4 separate regions of the Homo sapiens genome follow, and all the other regions are linked to region 4. Evidence: fine-mapped expression QTL. A gene starts in region 4. Each other region holds a variant in brackets. All regions are shown on one strand. Distances are between the middles of the regions.

Region 1 (8,109 bases), 120 kb after region 4:
CTGCATTGCTGGTTAGAAGTGGGGCTTGGTTCCTGCATGGTTCCTCCAAAGCTGCAGGAGGCCTTTGAACCTTTCGATTTGAAACATGCTGGTGCACACTTCAGAGCTCCGCCCAGAGAATCCCTCGACCACCGGGAGAACCGAGTCTTTCGGGGATTTGCCCCTCCAGACAAGAGAAATGAGCAAGCAGGGAGGTCACATGGCCAGCCAAGCTGGTCTGTACCAGATACCAAATCTTTTAGCTGTAGCTAGAGCATTTAACTTGTTAAACATATTCCTCTCTAACTGAAATCTCAGGGACGATGGAGGAGAGACTGTTGAGCCAGGATGTTTTTCCTTCATTTGCAATATTAGACCCAGACTGAAGTGGTCAGGTATGGGAGAGATCCAGGGAAGTGGACACTTCTGGTTTGAAATCTGGCTCTGCCACTTTCTAGATGCGAGGCTTGGGCAGTTGATTGATTTTTCATGCTCTTCATGTCTTTGTCTCAGCTAAGGTTAGAAGTAGCATGTGGATAATACCTAGCACAGTATCTGATGCGCAGTAGTTGTGTGGTCAGTGGTAAAAGTATTTTCGTTGTTGTTATTACCCTTCCTCCTCTTGCTCCCTCTGCTTGAGGGAAGGGTTAAAAGGAACGCACCACAGTTACGCTGCCTCCTTTGCCATAAGCTTTTCTGAAAAATTCATCCTGGATTGCCTGGATTTGGCATCAGCACTTAGTTAAGTAGGGACTGAGAGGGTGGGCACTGTTTAAAGGTAAAACTGATGCCCAGAACCATCCTCCCAACCTTGGTATCTAAGAGCGGCTCCCTTCCCTGGGACCTTCCACACCCCCCAGGTGGTGGATGTGTCTTATCTGAGCTGCCAACAGGCCCTGGGATCCCGGCCCCCCCATATCTCGGAGGAACACCAGCCGCTCTCAAGACATTCTGTCCTGACAGTTTGGTGCCCTGTGAGTGCTTCTTACAGCCAATGCCCTGCACCCTCACTGCATTCTCCTAATCACTGTGCTAATTACTGCACAATGTAATAGAACTACATTAACTGTTGTGTATTTTAAAGTGCAATATTAATGTTCATTTTTGTGCTTGACACCTGCACATTTTGTGGCTCATATAACATTTCTACTCACAGTGGAAGAACATTGAGAAAAAAAGGACTCTGTCTGAATTTTTAGCTTCTCATTACTGTAGTGGTCTCAAATTTTGTTTCTGCACAAGGTCTCCTTATCACTCAGGCACTTTCTGACCAAGGGGTGGGTATTTCATTTGAGACACTAAGATTGTTCTGCATGCCGTGTAGCGTGAATATCAACATTAAAGATTGCAAAAAGAAAAGAAGATGGATGGACGGATGGATGTGCTAAATAGATTTTAAAATAAAGTCAAATGAAAGTCTTTATTTTTGAGTACAGCAAGACGCTTCATCAATTCAGTTTTAAATCCAAATGATACTTAATTATGAGAGACAGAAATAACTCAGGAAATGTTACCAAGTGCTCTAGGGTTTCTAGCCAGTGATTTCCTAACTCCCCAAGAGAAGCAAAAAAGAAGAAGAGCTCGAGATGGGGAAGGAATCTGGAAAATGAAAAAGAGCCACTGTGGCTGGGCAGCTTGTTCCTCCAGGCTGGTGGGCTTGGTGCCCTCGGCCTTGGGATGCTTATCACAGTCCTTTGGGACCAGAACACTGGATATCAGTGCAGCCTCTGGGCCAGCTTCAGAGGCTGTTAGAGCATCATTGCTGCTGTGGCTGATGCTTCCTTTCCTCAGTAAGTCACAAAAGTCGTGTTGGCCATCCAGGTTACCGAGTGACTTAATTTCCAGAAAATTTAATATTGAGTCATTATTGTATGCATTTTCACTGTTGCCATTTTGTATCCTCGTAGGTAGTCTATGAAGTACCACTGGGTCACAGCTGCAGTCTGCTAGAAAGGAGAGAGACATTAAAGACCCTTTAGATCCCTTATAGAAGTCAAAATGCAGGGATAATGTCTAAACTGCCTGCTCCCAGCAGTTCAATTTCAGAACCAGAACCAGAGCCCAGGCCTCTTGACTCACAAATACTTTTCTTTTCATGTTGGTAGAGTTAGAAAATGTCATGATACCAATTTTAGCACAACAAACTATTTATCTAGCTGCTTTTCTTAGATTAGAACATAAACTTGTCTTTGGTTTTGGCTGCTGCAGAGATTTTGATTTCTCTCTGTTAAACAGTCCCTGGATCTCTTCCCCCAGATGACTGACAGTGATCTGGAGCCTGATTTATATGGTTTTGAGGACTTGGTCTTTGGCCTGAGAAAAGCCGGTAGCCAGTGCCACTGCTTTCTGTCCTTTTCAATGACTGGCACCCCGGCCCTGCACTTTGGATTCCTCATCCTACGGAGCAACTTTACTTACCCAAATAGTCTGAGATGATTCTGGAACCCTGAATGTTCAGCACTTCAATATTTGACCTGCAGGATAGAAAGACCCACATTCTACTAAGATTGAAATTCGAAGGTGGCACAATAGAGGATCACTGAAGAAAGGCTCTGACTCTCGGTGATTTATGAGGTCTTCCTGACGCCCAGGCAGTGAAGGGAAGGCCAAGGAGGACCTATGTTGGGCCGCCAGTGTGGCCTCCTCAGACCTGGAAGTGCGGTGGTGGGGCCCAGGGTTTTGACTGAGCGTTTTCAGCCTTGGCCTAGAAAAGATGATGAAACCCTTTTTTCCCCTCAGTCTAACCCCAACAGAGGAAGAACAGGAATTCAAAAAAGCCATTAAACTGGGGCATAGTCTTTTCCATTGAATCTATAAGATTCTTGAAGATAGACAAAGATGCTACCTTGTTCACCCTTTTGCTTTTTTTTGCGGAACCTGACACAGTGCCACACATAGGCATCTTTTTGAATGGAATTAGATGTTTAGTGTTCTGTCTCTTTCATTAGTTCTGAGAATACCCGAAGTCTGCTAGTGTCAATCTTTGGGCTCTTGTATCCATTGCCAAGCTTTTTGTTTTTGGGTTTATCTAAAAGAATAATATTGTGATAGTGGTTTGTGAATATAGTTTTACAGTATAATTTTGTCTTAAAGCATTCTATTTTCAAGTACTAATTTCATGTATAAGATTTCTTACAATAATTATTAACTGTCTATGCTAAACATATTAATTTTGAATAACAATTCTACAATGACCTCAAAGGCATTTACAAGTGCTCACCACAGCCATGGTGAAGGATGAACGTGGCTTTGAAGTTAGACAGACCTTAGCTCTAGCACGGGTGTCCTGCCCTTTGAATTTGAGGATGTTTTTGCCTGTCTGTGGTGGTGGATATCATGAAAATTATGCATGGTCCTTTTTTTTTTTTTAAGCTCATCAGCTGTTGTTAGTGTATTTTACGTGTGTGGTATGGCCCAATACAGTTCGTCTTCTTCCAGTGTGGCTCAGGGAAGCCGAAAGGTTGGAGACCCATGCTGGCCGGGCCACGCCACCTGTTCCCTGCAGGATCTGGGAAAGTTTGTCAAGTCTCAAGTTCAACAGAACTATGAAATGGGGATTATGCAAGAACCTATAATTCAGGGGGTTACTGTGGGGATTAACTTGAGCTCAGGTATATAGAGTGATTGTGCAGTGCATGGATGTCGAATATCAAAAAATATTTGTTATTGTTTTTATTGTTATTTGGTGATTTTTCATAAACAAACTGACAACTGGGGTTGGCCTGATTCATGAGATATTGGTGGAGTTCTTTGAAATGCCCCAGTTCTCTTACCTTCAGAAGTCCAAAGCTTTCCACAGAATTTCTGCCAGTTCCCATGGAGGTTTGCATTTTCACAGTCCCTTCTGGCATAATCATTTGCTGCTGAATTAGTTCACGTTGCAGATCGACTCACCATCCGTTTATGTGTCATTGTCTTGTGGCACAGCTCTTCCTTAATTACCTAGCTCTTCCTTAATTACTCTCCCCTCCTCCAAACCC[T/G]CAGTGCGTTATGGTATATAGCCAACTGTTCTGAAGATTTTGGCAAAGGAAGGGTTGATACTGCAATGAAACGGTGCCTTCAGACAGTTTAGATTAGATTTGTTCACTCCATCCCTGGAGATTATTTCCTGTGGTGCTTCACTACCTAATTAAAAAAACAAAAACAAAAACAAACAATCAAAAAACCCCAAAAACACTTAACATGAGGTATAGGCATTTTTCCCAAAAGACTAACAGTGCTTGTGTTGGATTATGGTCCTAGGGGTGATTTTCTTCTCTTCCTGTTATATTTCCAAATCTTTAAACATTAAGTAAATAAGTACATGTTTCCTAGTTTTAAAAAGGCAAGTTCTAAAAGCTGGGGGCGAAAGTTTGTTAGGATTGGAGAAGCAATACAAGCAGGATAAACAAATCTTTGCTCAGCGATCCCCATCTCCTTCTAATCCTTTAAAATGTATTTCTCAATCCGGCCTAATGGAGTCATTTTATTTCCCGTGTGTATCACAAGTGCAGATGCCCCGGTTGGTAGCACTAACAGGCATCTTTCCTTCAAATGTCTTGACGTGCCAGTTGCTTCTGAAAAGCTAACGTGGCTCTTGCTGCTCCGGGGTGGAGTTCGCGTGGTCAGACTATCTGCTTCTGCCCGCTCAAACCCCACTTTGGCAAAGAGTGGTATCTACTTTCTCAGTGCCTGGGAGTTGACACCTCAAGCTGCTCTTTCATGGGTTATGATCCTCATGCTTCCAGGACCCCTCCTGCTAAGACCACCAGTGCCCCCATGTTCCTGAATGTAGTGGGCCACTTACAGTTCTTGCCTTACTCCATCTCAGCAGCATTTGACATAGACACTCCCTCTCTCTTAAAATATTATCTCTGCTATCCTCTTGATAGCAGAATCTCCTGATTGTCCTCCTGCCTGTCCATTTCTTTGTTTCTGTGCTTTTCTGATTCCTCTTCTTCATGTAGACCTTTAAACATTGGGCTTTCCTCAGATCTCTTCTCACTCTGCCTGCTCGCCCTGGGTAACCTTTTTTAGTCCCATGGCTTCAATTATTATCTTTTATGTGCTAAAGACTAAATTTATCACATTTCAACAAATCTAAGACATCAGTGATGCTAAGAGGCAGCAAGATTTTATGAACCACAAAAGAAGAAAGAAGCACTGCCAATGAAATGACACAATAGCTTTTTACACATCAGTCATCAGATGTGTCCCATTTTTAGAAATACCAGAATGTAAAAAATGTACATCCAAGAATTAATAATATAGTGTAATATCTTTTGCATAGATTTCCATAGCCTTTTTCAGAGTATGAATACCTCGTATGTCTTAAGCATAGTGCTCCTGGGAGCAGGCAAATGAGTTGCAACAATTTTGTTTTGAGAAGCTGGTTGTTTCCTTAGTCTTAGCTCTCCCTAAGTATAAAACTGGCCTTATTACTTTGTAGTATGTACAGCATATATGTATAGATGAGACAGAATTAAGTTAGCCCAACAGTAAGGCTGAATTACTGAGTCAGTGGGTCTTCAAGATGGTGCCCAAACTCTGAAATTTATTTCATTTTAGATCGTTTTCAACGTCTTAGTATAAACTGTGAGGTGGTCCCTGAACAGTGCTTTCTGACTTCATAACGTTTCTAAGACAACTGAATTTTAATTTTTATAATTCATTTTTAATTGTTAGTATCTCTGGGAAATCATACTGTTGGTGTTCCCCTCCTTATTTCTTTTTTCCCTCTCTGTATCTTCAAAATTACTTTTGACAGCTCTGGGACCTGTAGGAACTATTGCCAAATTTTGGAATGTGACTTTCCTGCAGCAGCATCCAAAGTTAACAAAAAGACATGGAAAAATCCCATCTCAATGGTAGTATTCTAATCTCTCAACATCTGCATACCTTATTCTGCTCCACTGAGCTTTTCTAAAAATAATTTAAGTGATACAGCTTCCTCTACTTCTGTAGGGAGAATAATCCATATCAAATATTTTTGCCTCAAAGTATTATCTTATGCTCAATATGATTATCTCAATAAAGTTTCTATCCCCTTATTTTTCTCCTCCCATACTTTCATAATATCTTTATCGTAGTTACTTTAAAATAGAATGTTTAATGACAAAAGTTTAAGTAAAATATCCCAACCATATGAGAATTTGGAAAATGCTTCCCTTAAAAACTTTCAGGTCAAAGAAGAAATAAAAAGTGCAATTATAGACCATCTAGAAAGAAGAATGAGGATACTATGAATAATATTCACAGGATAAAACCTGAGATATACTTGGAGGAAAATGATTGAATTTAAAAACTTTTGTTATTAAACAAAAAGAATGACAGTTAACAAACTGACTGTGAAATCTGAAAATTTAGAAACAGACAGACAAAAACCACATGGCATGCCCAAGCAAAGCAAGTTAAAACATTTATTAAGGAACCAGAAATTAACAAAGTAGAAAAGAAAAATAAAGTTGATATATCCAACACCTGTTACTTTAAAGAAAAACCTTTGCCTGTCTAATCACAAAGAGGTAAAAAGAAAACAATTCACAGTATTAGGAATGAGGGAAGGGATAAGAAGAGAGGGGTTTACCCACAGATAAGAATTAAAAGATTGTAAAAATTTGAAAATCTGCAGTAAGATAATTTGTAAAGGTATTATAATATTAAAATGGGATTTAGTAAAAATTGGAAACAGTGAACGGATCTGTAACCACATAAGAAGTTGAAACCATTACTAAAGATTTCTGTGTAAAGAAGTACTATACTTGTTTCAACTAATAAATACTTTGTATGTTGAAAGCTTCCTGATTAATTGATGTAATCATAACCATGGTTAATTCACTTGATAACAGCAGCATGAATAGGCTAGGGCATGGAGGTTCTCTCTTAAAAGTATAGATGCAAAAGAAAAAAAACAAATCAAAATAACAATTATGGCGGGAAAAATACAAGGAATTAAAATATCAATATATAATGACTGTGTATGAATTACGTAGTCGTGATTTCAAGTTGGCCATATAGCAGGAACACAAGACTCCTTTAAAGATTAGGAAATCTATTACTATTATTGATAATTTAGGGCTAGAGTTAAAAAAACAAATATTTATCCAAATACATATCAAAAAGGCATAACTTTCACTTCTGATTTTAAAAAATCAAAACTCTTAGTAAACTAGGATTAGGTCACTTTCACGATGCGATAATAAATATCAGCATGAAACTCAATGGTAAAAGATAATAAGTGTTCCATTAAAAATGGGTGCACATAAAGAGATGCTCAATATTGTTAGCTATCAGGGAAGTGCAAATCAAAACCACAATGAGATCGCATATTAGGATGACTATAATCAAAAAAAGAGATTATAATAAGTGTTATCAAGGATGTGGAGAAGTTGGAACCCTTGTATATTGGTGGTAGGAATATTAAATGGCACAGCTGCTTTGGAAAATAGTCCAGAAGCTCTTCAAAAGCCTTACTATATGACTTACCAAATGACCCAGCAATTCTGCTCCTAAGTATAGCCAAGATAAATGAAAGCATATGTCCATACAAAAACTTATGCTCAAAAGTACATAGCAGCATTATTCCTGGTAGTCAAAAGGTAGATGCAACTGAAATGTCTATCAACTGATGAATTGGTAAATGAAATATGATATGTCCCTATAATGGTATATCATGGGGCAACAAAAAGTAAAGCACTGGTACATTCTATGAATAGATGAACTTGGATTGAAACGTAGATTGAGAACATGATTGCTAAGTGAAAGAAACCACTATCAAAGTATGACATGTTGTATGATTCTGTTTATACAAAATGTTCAGAATAGGCAAATCTATAGAGACAGAGGGTAAATTGATTTTTTTAGGGCCGGAGTGGTTGGGGGAATAACTGGGATGTGACTGGTAGTGGGTGCAGGATTTCTTTTTGCGGTGATGAAAATGTTTTAAAATAGTGCGTTAATGTTTGCACAGTGGCAGTGTATACAGTGTTGTGAATGTGCTAAAAACCATTGAATAGTACATTTAAATGGGTGAACCGTATGGTATATGAGTTATATCTCAACAGAGCTGTCATTCAACAAAGGAAAAACAATGCAAGAGTGACTGTAGTCTCCATGCTATTTATAGTTACTCTGAAGTTTCTAATTAATGCT
Region 2 (8,109 bases), 20 kb before region 4:
ATTTCTTCCTTTTGCAGCTGGCTGTATGCTAGCAATGCATAATTCTGGGCACGGACACAAGACCTGGGTTTTCAAGGCTTCGGCTCTTGAGATTTCCTCCTTGGCCAAGCATACCGCAGCACCCCATGCTAATGAGAGGCTTGCTGCCAGAAAGCTGAAAAGAGGCCACAGCCCAGCGCCACGTCTCCCTGTGAAGAGTCCCTGTCTCTGGGGCTACTGGCTCCTGCCACGGCTGTCTTCACTGGGTGGTCTGATCCAGGATGGAATTCCAGAAGCACTTGATGGATGGCAGACAGGGATGAGTGTGAATGAAACATCAGAACTCCCTCAGTGTAATTCCTTAACCAAGACGTTTACAGAAATTAATGAGACAGACAGTGTGCCTAGAATTAAGTATCAAGGAAATATCAGAATCCTGCCAAATTCATCTGACGTAAATTCTTACAATCCTACACTCTGTCCTCTTGCCACCAATTCCGAAGAACCAACATAGGCCATTTACGAGGTTTTTTGTCTGTGGGGAAAACACAAAGTATACCAAGCATTGCCTAAGCTCTACAAGTATTTCCCTTCATTTTGTTGAAATATAAACATTTATTTGACCTCCCTCTATCAAAATATACAATTTCATATTTTAAATGTATTCTTTTTAGAAAGCAAGTATCCTAAAATGGCTCAAGGACTACCAAAAAAAATAGTAGAAGAAAATGTAGTTACCTTACATATATTAGCCTAATCAATAATACCAACAAATCAGCAAGAGTAACTATCATTATGGTACTATGTGTTTTCTTTCTAAAGGAAATCTCATCTAAAAAATACTAAGCCTGAAACAGGCTTATATAAGGTCATTTCCGTAACATGTATCTTAGCTGTAGGTTAAAAATCTAAATAACTTTAAAGCAATTAACAGAACTGATTTGCTTTTAAGACACTTAAATATCTTTTTTCTTCAGTATTGTGTGGTCACAAATCAATACTGGAGTACAAAATAAACATGCTGCTCTATTTAAAAATATCCTCTGCTTAAGCTCATCTCTACTTACAGATACCCTTTTATTCCTCTCAAGGTCCTTCTCATCTCCCATCTCCTCCTTGAAACTTTTTTGTAATGAAAGTAAATTTCTGTTTGGAAAAGTACTCCTTTTTTTTTTTTTTTTTTTTTTTTTTTTTAAAGACAGAGTCTCACTCTGTTGCCCAGGCTGGAGTGCAGTGGTGTCATCTCGGCTCACTGCAACCTTCACCTCCCAGGTTCAAGCAATTCTCGTGCCTCAATCTCCCAAGTGGCTGGGATTACAGACGTGTGCCACCACACTCGGCTAATTTTTGTATTTTTAGTAGAAATGCGGTTTCACCATGCTGGCCAGGCTGGTCTCAAATTCCCAACCTCGGGTGATCCGCCCACCTCGGCCTCCCAAAGTGCTGAGATTACAGGCATGAGCCACTGCACCCAGCCATGATATTTTTTATAAAAGGATGTGTGCGTGTGTGTGCATTTTATGTATATATACACATACACCACATACACAAATATTCTCATGAACCCCTATGCTTCAGATAACTGTCTTAAAATATAGTTGGAACATATGTCACAATAAAAAAGTTTCTCCCTTTAATAATTCTTTCCTAAAACATGTTTGCAATTGGTTACACATAACCTATGTTTCAAGATTTAAGATGCTTTTATCACTTATTGAAATCTCAAAATGCCCCAAATTCTACAATCAGTACCAAACAGCATTCAAAACTAACTATAATATAGCTTTAACATATATGTTTCACTCTGATCATCACTAATTCTTTCTCACAGAAAACTCTTCTTTTCCCAAGTCATTGTTGGGGAATAAGATGTTTCAATCAATCAGATGGTCTACTGGTAGACAACAAAAATGAATCCATTCCCAGGGTTCACAGAAGAAGAAGCAGGGTGCTCTCCTTGGATCACTCTAGAAGGTTTTATGGAGGAGACATCATAAAGAATATTTTAGGCAATCAGAAGTCTGCTTGGCAAGATGAATGTGAATATTTAGGAACCTGGCCACCTTTATTCAGAAGCCCCAAAGAAACTTTCATCCTCTTTAGGTAAGTGACCCTGAAGTAAACAAAGGAGATGATGATATGGCATGGAGAAAAGTTAGAGAAAAAGTGTGAAGGGTTTGAAGCAAAGACTAGGGAGCCACAGGCAATGAGAAACAAGCACCTAACTATATGGCAAGGTCATAGTGAAAAGAACCCAATACTCCACAGCCTCAGTGAAGGCTGACCCGGAGGGACAGGGCCAAAGGGAACAGGATTCAGATACAGGAAGCTCACAATTAGCCTAGGAAGAGAAAATGGCGACAGAAATATGGACGAAGATAGAGATTCTCATCACTGTTGCTTAAAAAGAATTCAATCATCAATTTATAATTTCAGAAGAGTTCTGATAAGTTCCTGGAATGAGACATGCTCCTAAAATATACTACCATCACTATAACTTACTTCTGCTGCTACTACTGAGAGCTAACATTTATCAAGCACGTACTATGTTTTAGGAACTAGGCTAAGTGTATTACATATATAAACCTAACTGAATTACCTATCAACCCTATGAGGTAAGTGCTTTTATTATCTCTAGTTTATAGGTGAGAAAACCAATGCTTAAAGAGGTTAAGTACTAGCTGCTTGTTACAAACAAAATATTTGTGTTCCCCCAAAATTCCTATGAAGTTCTGACCTGCAATGTGATAGTATTTGGAGGTAGGGCCTTTAGAAGGTAATTAGGGCTAGATGAGATCATGTGGGTGGGGCACCCATGATGGAATTAGTGTCCTTATAAAAAGAGGAAGAGCTGGTGTTCTCTCTCTACCAACTGAGGACACAGGGAGAAGGCTGCCGTCTGCAGGCCAGGAAAAGAGCCCTCCCCAGAGCTCAACCATGCTGGCACCATAATCTCAACTCCTAGCCTCCAGAAGTATGAAAAATAAATGTCTGTTGTTTAAGCCCCCAGTCTATGGTATTTTACTATGACAGCTCAAGCAGACTAAGATGCTAGTACAGATCAATGTCAGGACAATGTCAGACAAAATCAAGTCTGTCTGACTCTCCATAAATGAATATAATATAATGATTAGCATTTCAGAAGCAATGTAATGAAGCTTTGCAATTAAAAAATAAAGCTTCTTTGTTTGTCTTTTGCTAATGGTTTTGTTTTGTTGTGGCCACTGAAGTTTCTGATTAGTTTGCACCATCTAAAGAGACAAACACGAAGTTTACATTTTTCCAGAGCTCAGAATTTCCCATGATGAACACTAGGCTGAGGAAGGAGAGTGCTCTGATGAGCAAAGTGTTAACTGCCACATCCCAGAAAGTGAAGCACAGGCAGCTCCTACCAATAAATAGTCCAGTTATGAAGTACACATTCTAAACTGAGATGAAACACTATTCCAGAATATGCCTTAAGGAAAGAAACTTGTCACCACGGCTTGGTGAAAAGCCAATGTTAGCTGATGATGACATCATCTAGCTTAATATAGCACACTGAAGAGAAACTCAGAATCGATGGAGTTGCAGAATATTGTTTCCTTTACTTTTGGATGTTGTGCAAAAAAAAAAAAGAAAGAAAAGAAAAATGAATAAATATTTGAGACTATCATATGGGGAGAAAAAGTAATTCAAAGGAAAGGGGATTCCATTTTTAAGCAAGGCCACTGTACCCCAGACTTTGATATATAAAAATAAAAATTAATAATAGAGACGATTCATTGCTTTCCTATTATGTCTTGGGCTCTTGACTTACTTTATTTAACCCTCACAACCACCTCAGGAGAAATGTCCTATCTTTGCATGATGAAACTAAGGCTCAGAGATGTTAAGAAACTTTTCAAAGTCACAGAGCTGGATTTGAACCTAAGGTCTGTGTGGCTCCAAACTCCATGCCCTCTCTTCCATGCTGCATAACCCAGAAGCAGTGAGAAACAGAATGCTAGCAGTTCCCAGGCTCTCGGCAGCCCCCTAACACTCCGCTGATGAAAGAAAATTTGAAGGTCATCAAGATGTTACCAAAAATATATTTGAAAGACTTCAGAATTGTAAAACTTCATCTCCAATAGATTTTAACTTTTCAAATTCATGAACTATTACTGCCTTAAAACTGAAAATGTAATAGTTATTAAA[G/T]GTAAGCAATACGGGAAAATCAATGTTTAAGAACAAAGAAAGATACTAGATAAGCATCAGGACTTAAGTCTGTATTAAAAATTCCAACACACATTAAAACTTATACCTCTAAGCTAGAAAAATCTCCCATGATTTAATAGAAGAAGGTTACCTACAATAAGCAGCTGAAGATTTTCACGGCCTTCACCAAAACATGTAACATTTTCTAGTACACTTGTGTGCATTTTACAATTTATCCAGTTCATTTCTAACCCATCTCTGGGCTTCTCAATCTCTAATATTCTTGATTCTCTTCATATTCTTGAATTCAAAACACATTTCAGAACAAGCAAAGTCTTCTGGCCCTACAAATCACATCTTTTGTGGTTTCATTTTGCCTGGATTTTATTTCGAATGACCTCTGATAATATCAGGAACCTCTTCCTTCTATTGCCAAGTTTTTGTTTGGTCTCATTTTGTGCCTAGAAATAAATGAGTATAAGTCAGTTAAAGTCAACATTATTTTCTTAATCCATGCAAGGAATGTGTGTTTAAAGTGATGCAAAGGGGGAGTGAGCAGAGATATTGGATCCATATTTAATACATCATTTGAACTTTTCGTATAGAATTCCCACCTTAATGCCTTAACAGCACAAGCCTGCTTCTGCAACTTTTCTGTCCCCTATTTCAAAGTCCTCTTCAGTGTTGATTGTGGGGACAGGGACTAAGCCACAACATGAACCCTCAGTGTACCATGCATGAAGACAGGGATTTGTTTGACTGCTCTGTTCACTGGTTTATCCCAAATACCTAGAGTGCTTGGCACATGGCAGATACTCAAATATTTCCTGAATCAATGGATACTTGGCATCCATGTTTTTCTTGAATGCTTAAACCATCTTTTTCTTAAGTGCTGACCAGTTAAGTTCAGTGAAGAGTCAACTGGATGGGGTGAGGGGTCTGGGAGACCATGTCATCACTTAAAGAGCAATGAAAGAAACTGCAGGTGTTCAGGTACAATAAGCAAGGGTACAGCTGTGGCCCAAAGAGGGAAGAAGCCCTGAGCTAGCTAATAATCTCTACGAGTTACCACCCATGTGTCTTTGGACAAGTCACTGGCATCTCGGTCTTCTCATCTTTAAAACAGACAACACATAGGCCAGGTGCGGTGGCTCACGCCTGTCATCCCAGCTCTTTGGGTGGCCAAGGTGGGTGCATCACCTGAGGTCAGGAGCTTGACAACAGCCTGGCCAACATGGCAAAACCCTGTCTCTGCTAAAAGTACAAAAATTAGCCGGGTGTGGTGGTGCACCTGTAATCCCAGCTACTTGGGAGGCTGAGGCAGGATAATCGCTTGAGACTGGAAGGCGGAGGTTGCAGTGAGCCGAGATCTTGCCACTGCACTCCAGCCTGGGCGACAGAGCGAGATTCCATCTCAAAAAAAAAATTAATTAATTAATTAATTAAATAAATAAAATAAAACAGTTATAGAACTATCGTAAGGAGTAAGTGGACAAGCAAAGTGTCTGACAAATAGCAAAAAGTTTTAGAATCACGAATAGGTATTATTGCTATATTTAGTTTCTTTTCATTCTTAGGGAAAAAGACATAGAAAAGAGATGATAACTTTCTTTAAATACATGAATGGCAAGATGTAGGAAGGCAATGATCCTATGTATTTACTTCAGAAGACAGAACTACTAATAAAGGATATCATATAAAAAGAGTAAGGCATTGATCCAATAAAATGCAAATCTCCCTAATAAAAAGTGTTCCTACCCATAAGAAGCTGCCACCACTAAAGCTATCAGATGTCTGTCATTACTTAAAACAGAGGACAGTTGATTGAGGAATTTTGTGGAACAGTTTTAGTTAGAAGGGTATTAGACAAGGTTATCTGCCAACTCAGATTCTAAGATTTAATGATAGGATTTTTATTTTGTGGCTGAAAAGTAAGGCTTAGCCCATGGTTCTCTGTACTGTATAAACCAATAGTCAGATATGGGTAGGTACATTACAGCAAAGCACACATTGCCAAAAACCCGCCACCCCACTCAACATCCCCATCCTTCAGAAAAATGGCAATCAGGCAGGGCACAGTGGCTCACGCCTGTAATCCCAGCAGTATGGGAGGTCAGGCAGGCAGATCACGAGGTCAGGAGATCAAAACCATCCTGGCCAACATGGTGAAACCCCATCTCTACTAAAAATACAAAAATTAGCTGGGTGTGGTGGCATGTGCCTGTAATCCCAGCTACTCAGGAGGCTGAGGCAGGAGAATCGCTTGAACCTGGGAGGTGGAGGTTGCAGTGAGCCGAGATTGCGACACTGCACTCCAGTCTGGAGACAGGGCAAGACTCCATCTTAAAAAAAAAAAAAAAGAAAAAGATGTGGCAATCAAAGGCAATCAAATAAATTCACAGGGACTAAAAAATTAAAAACCACAAGCTATGTCCTCATTATTGATGACTTTGGAAAAGTACCGGGTGTATCACACCATTACATACTGACTATTTAGATCAAATAAATATTGAGTTGGTAAACGTTTCTTAAGTTTAAAGGTTCATCTGATGCAACAAATCTTTTTTCAGTGTTAGCAACTATAAAGTCCCTCCCCTTTTCCTGGTACCCTTGCATGGAATATTTAATTCAGCATAGTAGGCACTGCCTTTACCAATATAGCTCTACCCATGTATGTACTCATTACATAAAACAATTTCCTACAAGATCAGAAATGAAACGCTGTTTTATCCACTTGGCCCAGACAATAACAGTATCAAATACCAGAAATATTCATATTCTAAACTAAGAGAAGATTTTATCTTTCTCATTTCAGTAAAACTTATCACAGGGTCTCCACTGCCTTTATGCTCATTACTGCTATGATTCTGAGACTTCAGGTAGTTGTAACTCATAAACTTGAACAAGTAGAATCTGCTTAGGAATGAGGCCTTTATTGAACATTTCTATAAGACATCATCTTTGGCTGAATCAAATGATAGTAAAGCTAGCCTAAGAAATGACTGTGGAATCTAAGAAGCAAGGCAAGGACCTTCTACCAAGCAAAATTGAGTTTCTGTGCTACTCAGAACAGCTATAAAAGGGAAACCTGAACAACTTACATTTTTAAGTTATTCTAGAATTAGCTTCCAGGGTCAACCTCCACCAACGGCTGCTGTGCATTTCCCCATCTCTTTCTTTCTAGATATATTTTTGAGAAGGGAAAATATTGCATTATATGCCATTGTATTCTCACGTATTTAAAGAAATCTAAAATAAAAACACGGGTTTTCTGGGCTCATTCTACTTCTATTCTTCCCACAATGTCAGGGACTCTGCAGGGTTCTCTATAAATGTTGGATCAATCACTGCTCCCAACTCAAATGCGTGTTTTGGGACACACTGTATTTTTTTTTTAATTGATTCCTCTTTGGTTTAACACAGTTTGCCACCACCCCTTTCTATTTTGCACTAGCCTGTTTCATTCATGTCTGTTACTTACCTGGATCCAGGGAATTGGGATGAAATTGCTGAGAGACTCTGTGGGGTCAAGGAAGCCTCACTAATGTGCCGAGGTGTTTTTACTCCCAATAAGGGCTGACCATATACCCTTGTAGAGAAGAACTAAGACTATTACGGGTCAGTGATATTTACATGCTATTTGCAGTTCAAATTTACCCAGATTATTTTTAAATCCCTGCCATTATACACATGAATATAGAATATAACTGATCCTCAGAATAAATAGAACTTGATTGCTACTTTTTTAGAGGTAGAAATGTTGAGCAGGATGACAGGTTTTTGGCAATATGTGCTCTGGTGTAATCCACTTACCTATAACTTAATCTGAGAATGAACGAAACTTTCCCTCTTAGCGCTGTTGTAAGTGGGACAAAAAGTCAATTTTGCTTGGTCAAATGTCCTTGCCTCGCTTCTTAGATTCCACAGTTATTTCTTAGGCTAGCTTCACTATCA
Region 3 (8,109 bases), 42 kb before region 4:
CCCACAGAATTTTGTAATTAGAAGGAGACATTTTCGAGATGACAAAAATGAGACACACAGACATCAAGTGATGTACCCAACACCTACAACTGAACCTAAGGGCTGTGACTCAGGGCTGCGATTTCTTCCATTCCACACAAGTTAGATTTCTTTTTGAAACATACCTATCACATACGATAAAATGAGATTCCAGCCAGTGATGAAGGCCCACAGCTCTCCGACAGTCACGTAGGTGTACAAATATGCAGACCCCGTCTTGGGAACACGGGCCCCAAATTCGGCATAGCAGAGGCCAGCCATCACTGAAGCCAGGGCAGCAATGAGGAAGGACACCACGATGCTGGGGCCCGAGTCTGCCTTGGCCACCTCCCCAGCGAGGACATAAACCCCGGCCCCAAGGGTGCTTCCAACGCCCAGGGCAATGAGGTCCATGGTGGATAAGCAGCGGCATAATTTGGTGTCTTCTAGACTGTCCAGGGTCACGATTTTTCTCCGGATCAGACATCGGGCAAAGGTCAGCGCGGCTCTGCAAGGAATCATTCTGACGTCTGACGAAGGCGACCTGAGCAGAAGGGAGGAGGTTAGAAGCTGATCTGGAATTGTCATCCCTCCCTTTGGTAACCTAGCTTCCAGGCACAATTAGAGTATGTGTGTGTGTGTGTTTGTGTGTGTGTGTGTGTGTGTGTGTGTTTCACTTGTTAGAAGAGATGCAGTGACCCAGAGCAGTCAGAAGGAAGGTTTAATAACCAGAGCCTCGAATTTCCTGTAGTTCAATTTCCTGTAGCATACACGTCCCCTTATAAGAGACTGCAATAAATGGCTTATGTGGCAAGCAAAGGAATATAGCAGCCTTGGGTGATTAAAAAGATTTGCCATTCTTGTTTGCATATTATAATTTTGTGTTTCTGTTTTTGTTTGGAAACAGGATCTCACTCTGTCGCCCAGGCTGGAGGGCAGTGGCACAATCTTGGCTCACTGCAGCCTCAACCTCCTGGGCTCAAACAATCCTCCCACCTCAGCCTCCGGAGTAGCTCAACCTCGGGGTTACAGGTGTGAGCCACCATGTCCAAGCTAAAAATTTCCTAAGGATATGTTGATAGAAATATATTTCAAGAGATGGCTAATTTCATTCTCACTACAAGGAAAGGAGTGAATTGCCTCATCTTTTGGGTTCTGTCTCTCTTTACTTCAACCATCCATTTAACTCAGGTTCTTTTTCTTTTTTTTTTGAGACAGGGTCTCACTCTGTCACCCAGGCTGCAGCACAGTGGCGTGATCATAGCTCACTGAAGCCTCAACTTCCTGGGCTCAATCAATCCTCTCGCCTTAGTCTACTGAGTAGCTGGGACCACAGGCATGTGCCACCACGCTCGGGTAACTTCTTTATTTTTCGTAGAGACAGGGTCTCACTATGTTGCCCATGCTGGTCTTGAATTCATGGGCTCACGCAGTCCTACCTCCTTGGCCTCCCAAAGTGCTGGGATTACACGCATGAACCACCATGCCTGGCCCAGATTTTTCAGGCCTTACTAAATACCAGGAATTGTGCTGGGAATATGTGTAGAATGATCTCTTACATAGATGGGGTCTCTAGCCTTACAGGACTTAGCTATCATCTAAAAGCACGTAAAAACTTAATCATTACGTATTCTACAGCTTTATCAAGCATGTGTGAGCTTCTCTGTTTTCATTTTAAACAATGAATGTGAAGCAGATGTGAACTTTTTAGAATTTTTAAAAAATCACCTCTCAAGGCCTGCTGAAATCTAAAAGTGCTATTCAACTATGCTTTAAGTATGAATTTGTACTAAAATACACATGCTTATTATATTTGAGATTTCTAGATAAATAAGTCCAAAGTCCATGCCAAATATTATTCTATGTTCTTTTAAAAATGGAATGAATAAAGTAGACAAAAAGTCACACTCCCCACCTCCTGCAAGCCTAAACAATCTAACACTGAAAAAAAATCAGGTTATAAAACAAGGTGTGAATATTAGTTAAGAAAAAATACATAGGCATATATTACAGTAAAAAGACTTAAAGCAAAACATTCAAAATATCAACAGTAATTATATTTAGATGGTGGGTTCTTCTCTGTATTTCATATGTTACATTGCTAATACCTATTTCTAATTTGTCTCCAATGAATATGTACAACTTATATGCAAAAGAAATATCAAAAATGAAAGAGCTGTACATGGGATTGTCTACCAAAACATATAAGTCAACAGATGAGAAAATAACTGAGGAACATTATCCACACATCAATATAAATATAAATACAAGCTTCCAATAGTGAAAGCAGGTAAGTCAAAGAATATGAAGAAAAGCCTAAGGAGAAATAAAAAATAGAGGACACGTTCCTTGATGATAAAAACAAACTTTCACACATCTTCAGTATCTTCTGTGCCAACCTGACAGAGTGCCAAAGCATGGCACTTCACAAATGCTTATGGGAAAATCTGCAAAGACGTTGACATCTCCAGTTTTGCCCATATTCAGGTTTTCAACGTCAAAACCTATCAATGCTTCCATAAATCAAATGTTTATCAATTTCTACCACTGGCTAACCCTTAAATAGCCCTTTCTCATATATCTAGAAGATAAGTGTTCTGCTTAAAAAGAATTGAGAAGCAAAAAGTTATATAAAAACCAACTGAGGGGGCCAGGAGGGATGGGAAAGGTAGTTACTAAATGCTGAGCTTCTGTAATATTTAAGCATTTTTATACAGAGATGTACAAAGATCAAGGAGTAGGAACCACTGCCAACTGAAAAGTGCTCAGAAACAAAGACCCACTGAAGTTCATTAACGATTTAAGATCACTTGAAAATGAGACATGTCATATACAACTCCGGGAACACAACTGATAAACATACCCATTTGTCATTTAACCAAATAAAACATGCCCATGGTGGAGTACTTAATTAACCTTGACTTTTATGAGAAAAAGATATAAATTCTACGACTATTGCATATTTAAAGAGAAAGGATCTGGAAGGAAGCAAGGAAAACAAAGGACAGATTCGGGGGCTAATAGGATTGTGGGTAAACTTTTTTTAAATCCTTTTTTCCTGGTACTGTGATTATGATGTTATTTGTGAAATTTCTAAAGAAAAAACAGCATAAAAATAAAAGAATAAGCAAGTCGACCAATAAACAAACCTCCTGTGAAAACGTTAAAACAGTAAAAGCTTTTATTATTAAGCTACCCAAAATGAATAAATTAGTGATGGTCATCTCTTCAATACGAAATTGAATTTAATTCACTCCAGATTACACAGGAAGCAGGACTGCTTATAGAAATGCACAGCTTTAATCACATAAGATATGATTTCTACTGCTTCTGTCCTATTTTTTTTTCTTTTTTGGAGGGGTTGGGGGGAGGTCTGTGTAGGCAAATTACTTCTTTCCCATTAAAGATGAAAAGTATTTTATGGGTAGTCAGGTTCTCCATGTTACTCTGGGGAAAAAAGACAAAGATCCCATTTGTCAAGCATTCATTTGCTTTTGAGTAATTAGAAAAACATACGTCAGAAACTTCTCAGAACTGGCAGGTTACTC[G/A]ATGCCCTTTGCAAACAATCTCAACTACGCACAGCCTGGTAAAATACGGATTGCAAAAGCCACAATGCAGAACTAATTTTGTAGGACTATAATGAGATGGGAGAAAAGTAAGGAAAAAACATATTGGGTCAATTTAATGAGTCATTTTTAAACAAACATTTATTGAGTCCTAGCAGGTGTATCATGCAGTGCTTAGCAGATGAAGAAAGTGTATCTCGTACTTTTGTAAAATATGCTTTTGTCGAGACACACTGATATATGAAAGGAGTGTGGCAACAAGAGAATGAGAAAAAAAATTTGTGTCTAATATTAGTGATATAATTTGATATGTACATATCTTTGAAGTTTTTATAACTTTAACATTTTTAAAAAGATAAGCTCCCCATATGAAATGGTTATGACCATCTTACTCTCATTTTTACAGGGGACTTACTGCCCAAGAAAAACATCCCTCCTACTTATACAACAAATACGAATGCAGAGATACAATGCAGGGGTTTTGGAGGTGATTCCATTAATCTGGAGGGCATAGACTTTGTTTTTCCAGGAGCAGATGATCTGCACCATTGTAACCATTGTCAGTTATTGCTACTGTGACCAAGGACTCATATTTAATACGAAACCTACACGCATGTAGTATAAGAACAATGATGCAGATTTTGGGAAGTGGCCCATACAAAACTCACACCCCTGTCCTTGGCCTTAGAATATAAGGCTCTGATCAACATCCCTATGAGGTCACAAGTGATTCTGGCAATACCAGAAACAGATATCTTTCTTCAATAAGCAATTATTTTATTAATTGCTGAGACAGTGGCGTCTCTTGAGGAAGATAAATATGTGCATATTAGCTTAGATCTGAAAATAGAATTAGCGAAGGGAGGGCTGGAAGGAACTAGCAATATGCTGTGCTGCAGAAAAGTCTCTGAATGATTTTCATGAGCCTAATGATACATGTGAGATCTTTCTTAGCCCCACGCCCATTGTGCCCCAAACTTAAGTATAACCATTTCTACGCACCTTATTCCTTGATAAGTCCCTATTAATTCTTGCCAAAAAGCTAAATTCCTTCCTCAGCAACTTGGAATTACCTCCTTCTAAAACTTCTTCAGCCCAGGCCATCAACTTGACAGTATAGAATTTTAGGTCTAGTAAATCCCTAACCCTGATGACATTGACGGAGCAAACTTCCTTTCAACGATTCCAGGAAATCTTTCCAAATCTGCTAATCATAGTCACAAGTTGATCCTGGATTTTCACTTTAGTTCAAAAGTTTGAAGTTGCATTGAGTCACTTAGAAATGAATCTTTCCCTTCCTCCCCTAAGTAAAGGTTGACATTTCAAACTTAATCTTCTATATCAGTATCCCAGGCCCTGACAATAAATCTTACAGGAGAAACTTGCTGTCGCAAACCGGTGGGGCAGGTGTTCCAATAAACCCTCGACAAATTAGTTTGTCTGAGTTATAACCACTTGTTTCTATCTTCATTCCAGTTGCTAGTTTCGTGGTGAGACATCTGCTCTTTCTGTTTTGGGACTGATGGAAAAAAAAGTAATTAAATCGTATAGATAAGTAGGGATCTTTACCATACTGTTTTTGCCCTAGATCTTTTTTATTTTGCAATGTCCAAACCCAACGTTTCTACAATGTTAAAGTTCCAAGATAAATTTTCAAATTATAACGTGGGTTAAATAATTTAGTAAAGAGGAAAAAGATATAGCCATGATACCATGGATTTATTGACTTTTATTCTTTTTGCTAAGTTTTGAGAGATTAATTTCTTTACAAATTCATCAAAAGTATAATGTAGGATAAAAGACTATCACATGTGGTAACTGTTCAGCCTTGATTAGCAAAAACAGAAACCACAAAACTTGGCATTCAGTACTTAAGCCTGAATCTTTCTGGAAAAACACAGAACACTCTTCCATATTCACTTCACTTTTACTGGGTCCAAAACTTATCTTTTCTCCAAATCAAGTCTTCTGAATAATTTCTTCCTCCAGAGTTTTCTCCAGAGAAGTTCGTGCAAGTGTAGACATAGGTAAAAACAAAAAACACAACTGAGGCCACTACAAAGTTACAAGCACTGTAATAAAACCATTGATATTTTCTCCCATTTTATACCAAATCAGTACTGCCAGGAAGTTAGACTAAAAACATAGTATTTCAAATTTTCTGATATAGAATCCAGACATAGGCAAGCATTTTTCCCAAAGACATTCAACAAATAAAGGGCTGATAGAGAATTCTGGGAAGTCTGTAAAGACAGCTGCTGCTTCCAAACATGTGACTCCATTTCACTTTAGTGAAGGCAACATCACAGTGGGAATAAGGCATACCTAGTTAGCTCAAAGAGATGCAGAAAAAAAAATTAAATGAAGCATCCAACTTTTGTGTTTAGGCTTGGGGAACAGAAGAAGCAAAACTTGAAATGAAGAAAGCAAAGCCCTCAGCACCTTGGTAACCGGAGTCCCTGCCCAGTCAGCACACTGCGTTCCCAACCAGAGCTGGGTGTCAGGCTTGGGCACCAGGCAGATGCCCATGCCCGTAGGTCTCCAGCAATCTTTGGCTAGTATGTCACTCTGACTGCCAGTGGGTACAACCTGTTCCCTCTCCCCAAGCTGCTAGGACCTGTCACCTTATATGTGCCTTTGCAAACATGAGGAATGGCCCCTTCCAGAATTTTTTACCTTACCTGGGATCCCGCCACTGCCTCCTGCCCTCCCCACAGCACTGTCTTCATACCCCGAAGCCAAGGATCACTGGACCAGAGAGACATCTGACTCAGGGTTAAACAGTCAAAGGCTGGGAATGCTCAATTAGATGTTCTTGAAGCTCTTACGAACAAAATGATTAGGTCGGTCAAATGGTCTAGTGCAGGCTGAAGTCACACACACTGGGGACCAGCTTGACAAGGTGCAGAAACCCACAGGCTGGCAGTAGAAGCCACACAGGGTGGGCTGGGCACGGTGGCTCATGCCTGTAATCCCAGCACTTTGGGAGGCTTGAGGAGCACTTGAGGTCAGGAGTTTTGAGACCAGCCTGACCAACGTGGTGAAACCCCATCTCTACTAAAAATACAAAAATTAGCCAGGCATGGTGTTACGTGCCTGTAATCCCAGCTACTCGGGAGGCTAAGGCAGGAGAATTGCTTGAACTCAGGAGGCAGAGGTTGCGGTGAGCCAAGATCGTGCCACTGCACTCCAGCCTGGGCAACAGAGCGAGACTCCATCTGAAAATAACTAAATAAATAAAAGAAGCCATACAGTGTTCATTCAGAGGAGGACAGTCTTGTGAAAGGCAGCTGCCCCAGCAGGGAGGCAGGGCAAGAGGAGCCTGGGGAGCTTTTCTGTCCCCCCAGGCCTTGCTGCGCTTCTAACGCTGGGTGTGCAAGATTCCCCGACATGGTTTGGACACACCTCCTGTGCACTTCAGCTATTTAGAGTGGTCTCTGTTCCTTGAAACCAGAAGCTAATGGCGAAGGTCAAGATGGTACTGAGCGGGCCTGCTTCACCCCACTCTACTCCCACTGTCAACTCTTCCAATCTGCTACCTTCAGCCATTTCTGCTACATTTCCTGGGAATTCCTCTTCTTTCCAAAAGGAGGTTTCCGTGATAGAATAACTCTAATTTGTTCACTTTCCAATACCGTACTTAAAGTGTTTAGCCTGCATTAGTTCTGCCCTTTACCCACAGACGTATATACTCTCTCCTTGAAAAAAATAGCTTGACATAAGGTAGAATTGTTTGTTCGTTTGTTTGTTTTGTGGCAGGCTGGAGTGCAGTGGTGCAATCTTGGCTCACTGCAACCTCCGCCTCTCGGGTTCAAGTGATCCTCCTGCCTCAGCCTCCCAAGTAGTTACAGGCACCCGCCACCACATCCAGCTATTTTCTTTTTTGTATTTTTGGTAGAGACAGGTTTTCCCCATGTTGGCCAGGCTGGTTTCGAACTCCTGACCTCAAGTGATCTTCCTTCCTTGGTCTCCCAAAGTGCTGAGGTTACAGGCGTGAACCACTGCACCCGGCCAGAATATCTTTTCTTTTTAGACATACATACAACCAATCTGGATTATCGGTAACATCATTTCTCCCAATGCCCACTGTTGGAATGAGGAGCATGTAAGAGCTAGTCAGGGCCCCAGGAATACCAAGGGCTCTACAGTACTTACTAAAAACATTTAAAACTTTTTTTTTTTTTTTTGTGCCAAGGAATTATGGAAGTAAGCTAGCGGCAGAGCGATAATTCATGTAATGGAGGAAAGGATATCGAGGGAAGCACCGGGAATATTTTACCATACTGGAGAAGGTTTTTTAAGCTTCCTGAATCAGAGAAGTCTCTACAACACTTAAGACTTCAATGTTAGTGGGCTATCTTTTGTTAAAAAATGTAAAAAAAATTTTTGTTTTGAGATGGAGTGTCCCTCTTTCACCCAGGCTGGAGTGCAGTGGCATGATCTCGGCTCACTGCCACCTCCGCCTCCCGGGTTCAAGCGATTCTCCTGCCTCAGCTTCCCAAGTATCTGTGACTACAGGCGCCCA
Region 4 (8,109 bases):
CGCAGCAGTGCCAGAATGGGTGTGTGGGTATTGCTTTCATTTTTTTATCTCATTTTACATATTTTATATTTTATGTTTTGCAGGAGGATGGGGATACGGTGAAAAATTAAATTCATGACATTTGCAGCACTAGAATGCTCCAGCTTCATGATTCAGTCTTGGGTGTATAAAGTCCCGTATCAAGAAATTTCAAGATTTTCCACAACACATCACATCCATACACACCCAGAATAACAGGGGACCACATGTCTCTGAAGAGAGAGATTCATACTAAAAGTCTAAATAAAAGTCTAAATAATACTAAAAGTCTAAATAAGAGACGTGACCCACATATTCAAATCCAGCCTCTAAAATAGCCTTATTAACTCAAATCTTCTCTCAAGTCAATACTAATTATACTTACCAGTGAGGTCAGCGTAACAGCAGCAGAGGCCTTTCTCAGAAATATTTAAACTTTAAGAGTCCATAAGAGGCCGAGCACAGTGGCTCAGGCCTGTAATCCCAGGACTTTGGAAAGCCGAGGCAGGCGGATCACTTGAGGCCAGGATTTCGAGACCAACCTGGGCAACATGGTGAAACCCCATCTATACTAAAATTACAAAAAGTAGCCGAACATGGTGGCACACGCCTGTAATCCCAGCTACTCGGGAGGCTGAGGCATGAGAACTGCTTGAACCCACGAGGTGAAAGTTGCAGTGAGCCAAGGTCGCACCACTGCACTCTAGCCTGGGCGTCAGAACGAGACTCTGTCTCAAAACAGAAAAAAAAAAAAAAGTCGATAAGAATGTGAAAAGCAACAGCATACTGCTTGCTTCCATAGACTGATATATAACAGTTTCCATTACTAAGATGGACAAGAAAAATTAATAGGTGATTCATGCTGTGATTACCTTAACTAATTGAAGCCTGATGGAAATGAACTCCTACTTGGCTGGGATTCTGTGTGTGTGTGTGTGTGTGTGTGTGTGTGTGTGTGTGTGTGTGTATGTGTGTGTTGAGACAGAGTCTCGCTCAGTCACCCAGGCTGGAGTGCAGTGGCACGATCTCGGCTCACCGAAACCTCCACCTCCCAGATTCAAGCAATTCTCCTGCCTCAGCTTCCCAAGCAGCTGGGATTACAGGCACCTGCCACCAAACCTGGCTAATTTTTGTATTTTTATTTTTTATTTTACTTTAAGTTCTGGGATACATGGGCAGAACACACAGGTTTGTTACATAGGTATACATGTGCCATGGTGGTTTGCTGCACCTATTAACCCAATTTTTATATTTTTAGTAGAGACGGGGTTTCACCATGTTGGCCAGGCTGGTCTTGAACTTCTGGCCTCAAGTGATCTGCCCGATTTGGCTGCGTTTTGTCAATATCATCCACAACATTTCCATAACCACAAACACCACTTCTAAAACAAGAGCTAGAAAGTCAAGTAAAAGGGAAATATAAGAGGAATGCGGACAAATTTGTTACTACTAGTAAAATAAAAATGTCCAGCACATGTGATTTTGATGATGAAATAGTAGCATCGCCTTCATGTATTAGAGAGAGCATGTAAATTACTTGCTTTGCGGCACAGACAGGTCTGAAATCGTCTGCTTAGAAGTGGTGGTATTTTTTAATAGAGTACAGCAAAATAAAAAACTGCTCTTAAAATCCATCAATGGAGTTCCCCAAATGTAAACATAATTATAGAATCCCTCTAAAACCGGAGTTACACATTACTTTTTTGATTTTCCAGTGTACAGAGTAGAAAGTAAGTTTTCAATGAAGGAATAAATACATTTGAAGACAGATAAAACATCTTTTCTCAAACTGTTGAAATCAGTGGCATTCACTCAACAATAAAGACATATAAGCATGTGTTATGTGACACATACTATATTAGGTACTAAAATGAAAAGTTATTAAAATGGAAGACAATGACAAGAACAATTCCATTAGTTTTCTGTTGTCATTCAAGGTTGTATCTATATGGTTTTTAATATCCAGATTAAAGTTTTAGAAATTAATTAACAGCTTCGATTTTCAAGCCCATTTAGACAAGTGCTATCACTTAAGTGAAATCTTAGTTAACTAAGTTTTTCAGGATTCATTTGGATGACAAAGCATTCAAATGATGCACCCAAAACTAAATATGTGAGTATTTAGAAATATATTCCACTGAAAGCTTTTGCTTTTGTTCTAAATGTTTGGCATCTAGTAGGTAGTCTATAAGAGTCTTTAAAATCAGTGTGTTCATATCTACATGTTTGGGGGAAATAAAGCAAACAGCAACATGAAGGTGCTCCCAAGATTCTGTTCTGAAAGTTGTCCACCAAAGGGCACCAAAGTAAAACCAGCAGATGGCTCTGAACACACAGAGAGAGAAGGGGGGAGAGAGAATGGAGGGAAGAGGGACAGAGAGAGGGAGAGAGAAATGAGGGAGAGAGGGGGAGAGAGAGAGAGAGACAGAGAGAGAGGAAGAGAGAAAGGAGGGAGAAGGAGGGAAAGAGGGGGAAAGAGGGATAGAGAGGGAGGGAGAGAGGGAAAAATAAAACAAGAGAAGACAGAGGCTAGGTGAAATAGAGAAGTTGCCAGAGGACTTCTGGGAAAAAACATTTGAAAAGGAAGGACTGAAAAGAGAAGAAATGGGCACAACGGGGACTCCGGGTCTGGCCATAACAGCCAGGAGAAACAAGGGCTTAAGCCAGGAGGTCTGAAAAGAGAACAGAAGGTAGACCACCTAGAATGGGGACAAGGCACTTCCACTCTGCAAAGGTGAGTGTGCTTGCAGTGCAAAGCAAGAAACGTGAACTTTAAAATTCTTCAGGCACATGTGTTCAAAAGGCAAAGATACATGAGAATGCAAGATGAAAAACTCCAGCGCAAGATCAGGCTTTTTAAACTGCCACAGCTCCCCTGTCTCCCCAGCTAGCTTCTATTCGCCTTCCCAGGCTCCTAAGCCCAGTGACAGGAGAGACTCTGGAATGATCAGAGATTCTGGAATGAAAAGAGCTATGCCCACTGCTTAGGAGGCCAAGGATTCTGCAAACTGATCCCCGCAGATACCACAGCGCTTTACTCTGGTCTCCAAGGCCATGGCACACCCTAAAAGATTAAAATGCCTTAAGGTAAATGACCATTCCCAGATGAAGGCACAGAATGTAAACAAAGTGTGGGCCGAGGGAAGAAACTTGAAAAATCACAATAAAGTGGCCTCCCAGAGCAGGCAACTAGCAACTTTGTAGGAAAAGGAGAGGGAAGAAGTCCTGTGTTCTGCACTGAGAGATCATTTCATGTCACGCTTCAGTGCAATTAAAATAAAAAAGGATTTACTAATTACAAAGCAATCCTAACAAGGTACATAATACAGAATATTCACATCTTATACATCTCCTAGAGAAAGATTACAAACACAGAATGTTTCACCTTCCGGAGGAGATAATTATTAACTTTTAAAGACTAGCTCAGGCAAGAATGAAAAAGTATCAAGTCAAGGCCACATACATTCTAATTTTATAACCCAGGCGGCCCTGGATGGGATTCAGAGAGCTCTTATTTGAATAAGATCTGACGATATCCTCTCATTAAAAGGATTAGTGTTTCTGCACAAACGTCTAGATAAATCTTATTACTGGTCCAAAATTAGTCACCTAAAGGCTTTAGCCAGTTTTGCACAAATATTTACAACTCTGAAGAGGCTGAGTACTTTTTCTCTTGAAATCCAGGCACTATATCCACTTCAAAAGCCACATATGATTGTGGCTTTTGCTGAGCATATTTCTTTTCGACGAGTTGAAGATGACAATCTCTCAATACCTTACTCCATAGACTGGATGTAAGCGTCAAAAGAGGATGAAAAGGTACTTTCTGAACGGACAGGTACTCTGGGGTGATGGGTTGGGAGATTCTCTAAGCCTCAAGAACAGCGTTTCATGAAACGGGCTTATAAAATACAGCCCATCTCAAACGGATTTTAAAAGGCACCCAGTTACTTTAAAATACCCAATACAAACACCAAGACGGGCTATTTTACCAGGTCCCCTGCAGAATGTGAAGGGGCTTCCAGCGCTCCAAGCCGGCTTTCTAATTTAAGCCAAGAACCGAAAAGGAGCGAAGGCGGCTTCGGGGACCCCGGCAGCGTGCAGGGCCAGGAGGTTCAGCCTGCCCACCCGGAGAGGGGTGCGCCGAGCTCCTCTGGAAATAGTGACTGAAGGGTCCCCGCGAAGTCGCCGTGCCAGCCCCTCTCCCAGTTCCAGCGGTCCCCGAAGTCCCCGGGCAGAGCCGGCTGCACAGGGACCGGACGAGGCGAGGCGCATTCCGGGGCGCAGCCCCGAGGACGAAGGTCCACGGCTTCAGCCCCAGCCCACGGCCCCGACTCCCTGACGAAGACTCGCTGGAGCGCGGCCTCAGGGCAGCTGCGCGCAGCTGGACTCGTCCCCGGGAGCCCTCGACCCTCTAGTTCCCCGCCGGCCCCAGGGCGCCCTCGCCCCGCTCCTTCCCCGCCGGCCCCAGCGTCCGGGCTGCCCCTCGCCCGCGGCCTCTCGGCGGGGCTGGAGACCTAGCAACTTACTGGGGCTGGGTTGGGGTCGCGCCAAGAAGGCGGCGGTGGGCTGCCGGCTGCAGCGCGTCGGGGGCCCGCGGCTGGGGGACGCTGGAGCAGCGGCCGCCGCCTCGCTGGTCCCGCGAAGAGGAGCGCCCGCCGGCCGCGCTGCAGAAGGAGGGCTGGGCACGTGGGCGCCCCTCTGTGTAGCCACCCGGGGCGGGGGCGGGGCGCGGGGCCGGGCGGCACCGCCTCCTCCGCGCTCCCGGAACGCGACCCCGAGCCCGCCTCCCGCCGGGCCCCGGCCGCGCTGACCAATCCCCGGGGTGGGCGGTGTGCGGCCGCTGCTCAGCGGGGTTTGCCTGGAGCCGAGCACACGTGGGCGGGCGCTAGCCCCGGGCTAGGCCGGTGGGCGCGGGCCGGGGAAGAGAGGCTGCGCGCGAGGATAAACTTCGTGCTCTCCTGGGAGGACCAAACCTCAAGGGCATTTCCGAATCTTCTAAGCAGAGTTCTAAGTGGGGTTTTGGTCCCCCCGTTTACTTTCCATTCTACAAAGATTTTGGAAATAAGAAAATAATAATAAAATATAATAATAGCAATGATAAATGGAAGCCCAGGTGGATGTGCTTTGTCAAATGCAAACTAAACGTTGATAAATAATGTGCAGTTGCTATTTTGGAAGACTCCAGTGGTATGAATACGTAGTCACGATTGTTTGGGGGTGGGTTTATAGGAAATGACATTATTTCCAGGGGAGCAAGAGCAGAAGTTACACAATCAGGGTTTCTCCTACTGCGCTATTGTTTACTTTAGGAGTCTCTGATAAGATTAAGTCACAATGTGAAAGCCTGTTAATTTTCATCCAAAACGAAGCAAAACACGCACTGAATTGAACAATAAGTGTGTGTCAGTGTGTGTGTGTATATGTGTGTGTGGTTTGTCTTTAGAGACAGGGTCTCACTCTGTCGCCCAGGCTGGAGGGCAGTGACACAATCGTGGCTCACTGCAGCCTCGACCTCCTGGGCTCAAGCTATCCTCCCGCCTCAGCCTCCCAAAGTGCTGACAACTACAGGCTTGAGCCACCAGGCTGAGAATTACAGGCTTGAGCCACCATGCCCGGCCTATTACTATTTTTGTTTGACAGAAAGGTCCACTTTACTTTGCATAGTATTGGAGTAAACGTCCCTTTAACCCACCTACTAGTAATAACTTTGGCAAAGTGCCAGATTTGTATTGCTGCCTCACAGTACATATACAATTTTAATGTGATATTCTAAATCATTCTTCCCTTCAAGACATATATCCCCAAGATCATCTAATAAACGGTGTGGGGCTTCATTCCAGAAGATAGCACACACACAAAATCTCAATGTATCTCAGGAAGCCATCCATGGATTTCATCAAAAAGTGAAAGTGTAGGCTGGGGGTGGTGGCTCACGCCTGTAATCCCAGCACTTTGGGACGCCGAGGCGCGCCGATCACCTGAGGTCAGGAGTTCGAGACCAGTCTGGCCAACAGGGTGAAACTCCGTCTCTACTAAAAATACAAAAATTAGCCGGGCGCGGCGGCGGGCGCCTGTAACCCCAGCTACTCGGGAGGTTGAGGCAGGAGAATCGCTTGAGCCCAGGAGGCGGAGGTTGCAGTGAGCCGAGATAGTGCCACTACAGTCCAGCCTGGGCGACAGAGTGAGATTCCGTCTCAAAAACAAAAGCAAACGAACAAAAAAACTGAAAGTTTAAACAGCACTATGATTACGAAGATATTATCTGATAGACCAAATGTCTTAAGTAATAGAGACTGTCAAAGTAAACTTATTTTTACAGTCAAAAAAAGATTCCTTATGCAAATTATCATTAATAACATTAAGGGAAATGATGCGTGTGGACTTTTAACACCAGATTCCTCCTCAATCCCACGGCTAGGAGGCGTTGTTCAAGGGAGCGATGACTCAGATACTTTGTCTAATTTTTAAGGGTGAGTAATCTGGTCTAACATTTTTCACCTGGTTTAAAAAAAATAGAGATTCCTGGGAGTCGCGGTGGCTCAGGGCGGTTGCCCTGGCACTCGAGGAGGCGAGGCTACACGTTCGAGGCCAACCTGGTCAACATTGATTAAAATAAAGAAAGAAAAAATAAAAAAATAGAGATTCCTATTTTTAAACTTAAGCAATTATTTCCCCACATATTTTTACTTAAAGGCTCTGTGTTTAAATCTGTTTAATTTGTGATTAAGTTACAACACAATGATTTGGGATAAACAAATTTATCTGGAATTTGGAAACTGCCAATTTTGTCAGAATACCGATCTTTGAATTTATCCAATCTGCCCGCCGGCGCACTTCCTGAAGCAAGAACGTGCTGTGTTCATGTGTGTGAATAAGAACAACAACTTCATCTCTAAGCAAAAAAAGAGCAAATTCTTTCAAACAACTTTCTAACAAGATTGCTGAATATCTTTACACACTAGTTCTTGACTTAACATATTCCATTTCGTGTTTGAAATTATTGATTAACCCTGAATCCTGCCTCATAACTTTGGTTATTTCTCACCTTTAAAAATGTGTTTAGATGAGGAAAGAATAGGATGCCCACGGATTTAGTATGAGTCTCTTAAGACAGACTATGAGACAAGAGAAAATAGAATCGAATTTTTAGAAATGAAATATTTGAAACAGGTTAAGCTCTTTTGACTTCATCTTCATTTGCATTTTCTCTTGCTGCCCGGGGTTGAATTAGCATCTTTTTCCCAGTTGAGTAAAATTTGCACCCACCTTCTATTTCACGCTCCCTGGTTTATTGCCATCACTTTTCACTTTCAGCCGTCAAGTTTCCTCCTTAGGAATGAAGCAGAAAATCCAACTTAGTCATTTTCAGCAGAGAGAGTAGCCTAGGTTGTCATCTTCCAAAGATTTCACAAACATTCTTGCATGTCTGAACTCTTAAGGGTTTATGAAATTGCGGGGAATTTTAAGGGACTTTTGTAGCTGAATAAATTCCACACCCTGTACTCCCACACTTGCCAAATACAACCTAAAGTAAATCTCATGTCCACAAATAAGGGATTTACTTCAACTAGCAAGACTGAAGGAATGGATTCTTACTAGTTCTAATTTGTGACTCTATTATTCCCCAAACTATTTTAGCGAAGACAAGCTAAAATCCTCCAATTTTTTTCAGATGGTTGGATACTGGATACTAATGCTTGTGCTGTCACTGAATCAACTCAAAAGGGAAAAAGAGTTGGACCAGAGTCAGAGCACTAGCTATTTGTTTGTTTTTTGAGACGGAGTTTCCCTCTGTCACCAGGCTGGAGTGCAAGGGCACGATCTCAGATCACAGCAACCTCTGCCTCCCGGATTCAAGCGATTCTCCTGCCTCAGCCTCCGGAGTAGCTGAGATTACAGGCGCTCACCACCACGCCTGGCTAATTTTTTTGTATTTTCAGTAGAGACGGGGTTTTACCACGTTGCCCAGGCTGGTCTCAAACTCCTGACGTCAGGTGATCCCGCCCACCTCGACCTCCCAAAGTGCTGGGATTAAAGGCGTGAGCCACCGCCCCGACCCAGAGCACTAGTTTTAAGAGCTTTCAGGCC

Direction of the effects. Positions count from the first base shown, and alleles are read on the strand shown. Sizes are in standard deviations (SD) of each study's normalised expression. Not every link is listed here.
In carriers of allele T in region 1, the expression in tibial nerve of the gene that starts at base 4,697 in region 4 tends to be higher than with G alone (small effect, 0.27 SD a copy in GTEx).
For the expression in atrial appendage of the gene that starts at base 4,697 in region 4, G is the low allele of the variant in region 2 and T is the other (small effect, 0.29 SD a copy in GTEx).

Evidence for each region.
Region 1: its variant is fine-mapped to the expression of SLC7A2 in tibial nerve (GTEx, PIP above 0.99).
Region 2: its variant is fine-mapped to the expression of SLC7A2 in atrial appendage (GTEx, PIP 0.99).
Region 3: its variant is fine-mapped to the expression of SLC7A2 in lung (TOPMed, PIP above 0.99).

The regions. Positions count from the first base shown.
Region 1 is chr8:17,375,812-17,383,920 of GRCh38, reverse strand. The region is part of intron 1 of MTMR7 (myotubularin related protein 7); the gene reads left to right. LOC102724838 (a long non-coding RNA gene) reads right to left here. Exons shown (of 4, transcript XR_428318.4): 2 at 3,753-4,104; 3 at 2,398-2,453; 4 at 1,762-1,925. Among named protein-coding and RNA genes, the nearest start is that of MTMR7, 33 kb to the left of the region's middle. The variant T/G (reference allele first, on the strand shown) is at 3,960.
Region 2 is chr8:17,513,706-17,521,814 of GRCh38, reverse strand. All of the region lies in intron 2 of SLC7A2 (solute carrier family 7 member 2), which reads right to left. Among named protein-coding and RNA genes, the nearest start is that of SLC7A2, 21 kb to the right of the region's middle. The variant G/T (reference allele first, on the strand shown) is at 4,156.
Region 3 is chr8:17,535,771-17,543,879 of GRCh38, reverse strand. It overlaps SLC7A2 (solute carrier family 7 member 2), which reads right to left. Exons shown (of 13, transcript NM_001370338.1): 3 at 165-562. The coding sequence starts at 540. Among named protein-coding and RNA genes, the nearest start is that of PDGFRL, 37 kb to the left of the region's middle. RefSeq lists enhancers at 5,701-6,200, 6,201-6,702. The variant G/A (reference allele first, on the strand shown) is at 3,567.
Region 4 is chr8:17,493,676-17,501,784 of GRCh38, reverse strand. SLC7A2 (solute carrier family 7 member 2) reads right to left here and starts at 4,697. Exons shown (of 13, transcript NM_001370338.1): 1 at 4,548-4,697.